2 linked regions of the Homo sapiens genome follow. The protein of the gene in region 1 purifies or fractionates together with the protein of each later gene. This does not show direct contact. Each region holds a gene or a part of one and is shown in the gene's direction. Other genes may lie near its edges.

Region 1 (3,821 bases):
CTTTTTAATATTTTGGCAGGTTTAGTGTTTCAAATGACTTAAAGTATGATGCTGAAAGAGATTTAAGGGATATTGGAGCAAAAAACATTTTGGTTCATTCGTTAAATAAGGTATGAAATCTTTTTATTCAGTTGGTCATTCAATAAATATTGACTCATCTGTGAGATGACAATAATAATAGCTATGTATATAAGGGGACACTTTTTGGAAAACTTTGATGTTACTCCACAGAAAGCATAGTGAGTGCTAGCCACTATTGTTGGTTTGTGGATTCCTATATGCTAAACACTGACAGGCAGTAGCCACTCATCACATGTGGCTATTGAACAGTGTAAGTGACCAGTCCAAATTGAGATGTGCTCTCAAGTGTACAGTGCACACCAGTTGATTCTCTCAATTTTCAGTGTTATTTTTATCTTTCTTTTATAGTTTATATGCCATAAGGGTGCAGTTTAGACAGGTGGCATACCTTGCACTATAGGTCACCAAATCATATGCGATGTAGATAGTTATGGCTTGGGCAGACTGGTTTCAGTATTTGTACAGCTAATGGACTTGAGTTACTCATACCTCTGCTCACATGAAAACAATTCTGTAAGCTGAAAGACAATGTGTGCCAGTGTGTTTTAGAATGTTAAGGTTCAGTTAGCAAATCTTTATTGACTTACTATGCATGCACCAATTGTTGGTGCTATAAGGTTAAAATAGACTGATAGGGTTCCTGGAAGGGCCTCCCTAGTAGCCCTTTGAAAATAAGTAACTGCACCTCTACTTCCCATGTGAGTCCTAAGTTGAATTCAGTGTTGCCCTAAACAGTGGCTTGTTAGGGTGGGTTTTACTGGGTGGATTTGTAGCTATAAAGTACTGTGTCTTGAATGACTGTATACAATTCAGAACTAAAAGGATGTAAGTGGCATCTAGAATTTTTTTTTTAAATTTCAGAGTAGTATTAGAAAGGCACATTAACAATTACTCATAATTCTTATGTATCAGAAATTAATCACAGTGTTTTGCATATAGTAAGTGCACAATAAATGTTTGTAAATTGTGACTTTTTATTCTTATAGGGAAGTTTGTCTGGTTTTTAATGTTTTTTTTTGTGATGATAAAAGTTTTTAAGACTTTGAAAACTGGATTTAAAAAAAAAAAAAAAAGATCTCAGCTCTGTTGCCCAGGCTGAAGTGCAGTGGCACAATCTCGGCTCACTGCAACCTCCATCTCCCAGGCTCAAGCAGTTCTCCCACCTCAGCCCCTGTGGTAGCTGGGACTGCAGACACGCACCACGATGCCTGGCTAATTTTTGTATTTTTTGTAGGGATGGGGTTTCACTATGTTGGCCAGGCTGGTCTTGGAACTCCTGAGCTCAAGCGATCCACCCACCTTGACCTCCCAAAGTGTTGGGATTACAGGTGTGAGCCACTGTGTCCTACCAAAAACTGGATTTTTGTACTATAAAGTTGTGTGTTTGTGTTGTGTACATTTATACAAATAAATTTGCGTCTCTGTACTTTTATGTTTTCTGAAGCCTGTCATGGGCCTAACAAGAGTTCCTGCTTGTGAATGTTTAGTTGGGATGAATGTTGCAGAGAGAAAGGTATACTAATTAACTAAATTCTTTTCTTTTCTTTTTTAGTTTAAATACGGAAAAATTTCTTCCAAACATAATGGGAGTGTGAAAAAGGGTGTTATTTTTGCTACTTACTCTTCACTTATTGGTGAAAGCCAGTCTGGCGGCAAGTATAAAACTAGGTTAAAACAACTTCTGCATTGGTGCGGTGATGACTTCGATGGAGTGGTATCCTTTATGGCAAATATTTTTCTATTTTTTAACGACAAGAAAATTATAAAAGGGTAGACCTTTGGGAAACAGGAATCTTGAGATTAAACGAGTTGCTGGAGTGAAAACTTTAATGATTACCTAGAGTCCAAAGGGATTGGAAAGTTGATTCGGTTTTTTACCTGTCAGATAGGAGACCAATGTTTAATCTCCTGGTTTAGAAAAATGTTAATAGATATGAGGAATACTGAATACTGTATTCCCCTTTTGAGGATTAACATTGCATATTTACATAGCAGAATACCCGAGAAGACTAAGTGAAAGAAAACTGTTAGAACTTAGTGGTCCCAAACTTGTTCACAGTATATCTTTTAACTGTCCTGCATGAGGAACATCACTTTTTGAAATGCTGATTAAGTTGGTTACCAATCATGCTTCTACTTTTACAAGTTACCAGATAACAACTTCTTGCTGCAGTGGGTTCTTTTCTCTGTTTTAATTTAGAGGCAAATTGCTGGTTTAAATTCCAAATTCAGTGAATGTCTTTGAGGCTAGAGAGGGAGGAGGATGTAACTGGGGAAAGGCCCATAGGACTTCCTTTGTATTTGCAGTCATGAAATAGGCAATCAGAAGGCCTCAGGGAAATAAAAGTTAACTCTTCTTGAAAGACTGGAGATTCTTACTTAATACTAATGTGATACATTCCTTAACTCATTCCATTTAGATAGTGTTTGATGAGTGTCATAAAGCCAAAAACTTATGTCCTGTTGGTTCTTCAAAGCCAACCAAGACAGGCTTAGCAGTTTTAGAGCTTCAGAACAAATTGCCAAAAGCCAGAGTTGTTTATGCTAGTGCAACTGGTGAGTATTTATTTATTTAAAAATATATATTGTAGGTTATTTTTTCAACTATAATATATTTCATTTGTGGGATTTTCAGGTGCTTCTGAACCACGCAACATGGCCTATATGAACCGTCTTGGCATATGGGGTGAGGGTACTCCATTTAGAGAATTCAGTGATTTTATTCAAGCAGTAGAACGGAGGTAATGCAGTTTACGGTATATACTCTTCTCAGTAGCAATCTAAGAAGTGTGTTATTCCTAAAGCCCATTCTCTGTATGTTAAAATTCTACTGTATTGGTAATTACTGTATGTTTTAATTTTATTCAGAGGAGTTGGTGCCATGGAAATAGTTGCTATGGATATGAAGCTTAGAGGAATGTACATTGCTCGACAACTGAGCTTTACTGGAGTGACCTTCAAAATTGAGGAAGTTCTTCTTTCTCAGAGCTACGTTAAAATGTATAACAAAGCTGTCAAGCTGGTGAGGAATTTTTCTTAATTCCTAGTGTTTATTTAATGTATCTGATAATGTTTCTGTTAGTTTTGGCGATTGCGATGCCTCCTGCCCATGGGAATGTATTTCTACTATAAAACAACAGATGAAGCCAGGCACGGTGTCTCATGCCTCAGCACTTTGGGAGGCTGAGGCGAGCAGGTCACCTGAGGTCAAGAGTTCAAGACCAGCCTGGCCTACATGTTGAAACCTCATCTCTACTAAAAATACGAAAAAAAATTAGCTGGGCATGGTGGTGTGCGCCTGTAGTGCCAGCTACTTGGGGAGGCTGAGGCAGGAGAATCGCTTGAACCCAGGAGGCGGAGGTTGCTGTGAGCCAAGATGGTGCCAGTGCACTCCAGCTTGGGTAACAGAGGGATACTCCATCGCAAAACAAAAACAAAAACAAAAAACAAAAACAAACAGATGAGTTACCAGATGATAGGCTGTTTAACCAATGTGTTTTTTTTTGTTTTTGTTTTTAATTGAAGCAGGGTCTTACTCTGTCACCCAGACTGGAGTACAGTGGTGTGATCTTGGCTTACTGCAACCTCTACCTCCCAGGTTCAAGGAGTCCTCCAGACTCTGCCTCCTGAGTATCAGGGACTGCAGGCGCATGTCAATGTGCCTGGCTGATTTTTGTATTTTTTGGTAGAGATGAGGTTTTACAGTGTTGCCCAGCCTGATCTGGAACTCCTGGGCTCAA
Region 2 (3,821 bases), on another chromosome or scaffold:
TGAACTATATTGACATAGAAAATTCACCTGTAAGTGCACAATTCAATGATTTTTGGTAAATATACAAAGTTATGCATCCATTACCCCAAAAGGATTCCTTCTGTCTGTTTGCAAGTCACCCTGTTCCACCCCAGTTTCAGGCAAGCCCTCATTTTTCTGTATAGATAGTAGTAGATAGCGCTGCTTTTTTGTTTTATTTGGTTTTTGAGATGGGGTCTCTTTCACCCAGGTGGAGGGCAGTGCTGCGATCTTGGCTCACTGCAACTTCCGCATTTCAGGCTTAAGCAATCCTCCCACCCCAGCCTCCCAAGTAGCTGGGACCACAGGTGCACGCCACCATGCCTGGCTATTTTTTTGTATTTTTGGTAGAGATGGGGTTTCACCATGTTGCCCAGGCGGGTCTGGAACTCAGGCTCAAAGGATCCACCTGCCTCGTCCTCCCAAAGTGCTGGGATTACAGGTATGAGCCACTGTGCCCAGCCTTGTTTTTGTTTTTAAAAAGATGAATTCTTCCTGTGTTGCTCAGGCTGGAGTGCAGTGGCTATTCACAGGCGTAATCCCACTATTGATCAGTTTGGGAGTTTTGCCCTTCTCTGTTGGCAACCTGGTGGTTCTCTCTCATCCCAGGAGGTCACCATATTAATGCTGAATGGACTTAGCATGAACACCTGATCAGTAGCGTGCTGCAGCCCAGAACTCCAGGGCTCAAGTGATCCTCCTGCGTAGCTGTGACTATAGGCAGGCACAGGAGTGTTGCTCTTTAATCATTGAAAATGGTAAAACAACAAAAGTGGCAATGTCAGAAAAAGATCAACTCTTTTTTGGAGATTTCCAAACAATTGAGTATTTTCATACTTCTGAAAAGCTTTGCTGTAAAAGTAGTTTTTCTGTTAAGCATTTCCCATTCTTCTTTGGGCATAAAACACTTTTTTTTTTCTAGGAATAATTCCTGCAGACCTGACACATAATTGGAAGTAGATATTGAATGAATGAGTGAGTTGTATGTGAATATTTGCTCAGAGGAATCTCAGTTCATTATCATTTCAGAAATTTGGCACGTAGTGTACTGATGGAGCTAGTCTAAAATAATCTATCCTGGGAGAAATAATTTTGTTTCTATCTGGATAAGTCTACAATAGAGGAATGCTTATTAGCAGTGTTTTGCTGTATTTTGCATACTTGCAGTATTCTTAAGAGTGCAGAAAAAAATAGTTTGAAAGATTCAAAGAGAAAAAAGTGAAAAAAGAAAAGCTGAGTGCATGCATATGTTGAGTACTAGAGATATGTCTTCAGGGTTTCTTTTTGGACCAGATTTCTTGAGATAAAATTTGCATACAATAAAATGCATCTGTTTTAATTTCAATGAGTTTAGACAAATGCATATACTTGTGTGACCACCGCTACACTAGAGGTAGGGAACCCTTCTATCATAGGTTTCTGTTATTTTATTTAATTTTTGGGGGGCCTCACTCTGTCGCCCAGGCTTGAGTGCAGTGGTGTGAGCTCGGCTCATTGCAACCTCCACCTCCCGGGCTCAAGCGATTCTCCCATCTCAGCCTCCTGAGTATCTGGGACCACAGGTGCATGCTACCACACCTGGCTAATTTTTTGTATTTTTGGTAGAGATGGGGTTTCACCATGTCGCCCAGGCTGGTCTTGAACTCCTGAGCTCAAGTGATCTGCATGCCTTGGCCTCCCAAAACGCCGGGATTACAGGTATGAGCCACTGCACCTGGCCCAGGTTCCTGTTTTTATTATCGTGGGCTATAGAGTTTCTTTTTTTTGAGATGGAGTCTGGCTCTGTCGCCCAGGCTGGAGTGCAGTGGCACAATCTCTGCTCACTGCAAGCTCCGCCTCCCGGGTTCACGCCATTCTCCTGCCTCAGCCTCCCGAGTAGCTGGGACTACAGGCGCCTGCCACTATGCCCGGCTAAATTTTTGTATTTTTAGTAGAGACGAGATTTCACTGTGTTAGCCAGGATGGTCTCGATCTCCTGACTTCGTGATCCACCCACCTCGGCCTCCCAAAGTGCTGGGATTACAGGCTTGAGCCACCGCGCCCGGCCCGGAGTTTCATACTTAGCAGGAAAAGGTGCTTTGAACCTTCTAAAATGTGAGGTACTTTCAATATTTTAAAAAATGCTATGGAAATGATTTCAGTGCCATAAGATAACTCTGCATTTCTCTCTTTTAAATCCCACATATTATACAATCCCTCAGCAAATCCTATTGGCTGCCTTCAAAATATATCCAGGATCCAACAACTTGATAGCACTTTCACCACTACCACCTGTTCCAGGCCACCATCTCTCCAGGCTACCATCTCTTATATGGATTATTGTACCAGTCTCTTGCTTGTATCCTGTTCCCTTCCAGGCTTAACACAGTGGCCAGTGATACTGTTAAAATGTGACAAGTCAGAAACTCTTCAAATGATTTTCACCTCATTCAGAGTTAAAACTAAAATGTTTATTTACATTGTGTTACATAGCCCTACACTCTACTCATAATACTCAGTATTTATTTCTGATTTTCTTCATTTATTCTGCTCCAGTCATACTGTTGGCCTTGCTATTCCTCCCTCAAATACACCATTCCTGCTTCAGCCTCTTTGTATTTGTCTTTTCCTTTGCTTGGAAGTCTCTTTCCCCCAGATATGAATAGGGCTTCCTGCCTCTGCCTCTTTTAAATCTTTGTTCTAATCTTCACCTTCTTGGTGAGGCCTAATCGCTGTATTTAAAATAAACTACTCCATAGCTCTCTTCCCTAATTTATTTTTCTACAAAGTACATACCATCTTTCAATGTATTATAATTTATTTTGTTTATCATCTATAGGTAACAGATAAGCTTTGCTTATGATTATGAAAGTTAATTCTCAATCAGTTTCACATGGCAAAACACATAAACCTGTGTTGAAATAAGTAGTTGGTAATCTTTTAGGCTGCTTAAAGTGGACATTAGTATTTATCAAAGATGAGAAATGTTTTCTGATTTTCCATGAGAGACCAATCTTTTTTATTTTTGTTTTGAAATGGAGTCTCGCTCTGTCACCCAGGTTGGAGTGCAGTGGCGCGGTCCCAGCTCACTGCAACCTCTGCCTCCCAGGTTTAAGCAATTCTCCTGCCTCAGTCTCCCGAGTAGCTGGGACTACGGGCGCCTACCACCATTCCTGGCTAATTTTTGTATTTTTAATAGAGACGGGCTTTCACCATGTTGGCCAGTCTGGCCTCGAACTCCTGACCTTGTGATCCGCCCGCCTCAGCCTCCCAAAGTGCTGGGATTACAGATGTGAGCCACCGCGCCCAGGAGAGGCCAGTTATCTTAAAGGAATATCCATAAAAATTAGCTGTTAACTGGTATTTTTGCCTTCACCTTTGAAGTCCAGCCTATCAACAAGCAAGTTTTGGCAGCTCCAAATAAAGGGGAATATGTTATGGAAAAATTTGAAGTGAATGGAATGGGTATATTGGCATAAACGAAAATTAAATATATCTGGTTAACTCTGCAGAATGAATTACACATTTAAAAACCATAAAATATAACTTAAATACCAAGAATATAGAGTTTTACTTTTTTTTTTTTTTTAGACGGAGTCTTACTCTGTCGTTCAGGTTGGAGTGCAGTGGCGCGACCTCGGCTCACTGCAACATCTGCCTCCCAGGTTCAAGCAATTCTCCTGCCTCACCTTCCAGAGTAGCTGGGATTACAGGTGCGCACCACCACACCTGGCTAATTTTGTTTGTTTGTTTGTTTGTTTTCTTTTGAGACAGAGTCTCACTGTGTCACCCAGGCTAGAGTGCAGTGGCGCGATCTCGGCTCA

What was found.
Region 2: the proteins of SBNO1 (region 1) and RBM25 fractionate together in Homo sapiens (co-fractionation; one large-scale study listed by BioGRID). This does not show direct contact.

What each region holds. Positions count from the first base shown.
Region 1 is NC_000012.12:123,326,708-123,330,528, reverse strand, and holds part of SBNO1 (protein strawberry notch homolog 1), read left to right. Parts: intron 1-19; coding exon 20-110; intron 111-1,633; coding exon 1,634-1,795; intron 1,796-2,501; coding exon 2,502-2,637; intron 2,638-2,716; coding exon 2,717-2,822; intron 2,823-2,949; coding exon 2,950-3,103; intron 3,104-3,821. UniProt on the Homo sapiens protein: Plays a crucial role in the regulation of neural stem cells (NSCs) proliferation. Enhances the phosphorylation of GSK3B through the PI3K-Akt signaling pathway, thereby upregulating the Wnt/beta-catenin signaling pathway and promoting the proliferation of NSCs.
Region 2 is NC_000014.9:73,061,384-73,065,204, forward strand, and holds part of RBM25 (RNA-binding protein 25), read left to right. Parts: intron 1-3,588; exon of another isoform or gene 3,589-3,710; intron 3,711-3,821. UniProt on the Homo sapiens protein: RNA-binding protein that acts as a regulator of alternative pre-mRNA splicing. Involved in apoptotic cell death through the regulation of the apoptotic factor BCL2L1 isoform expression.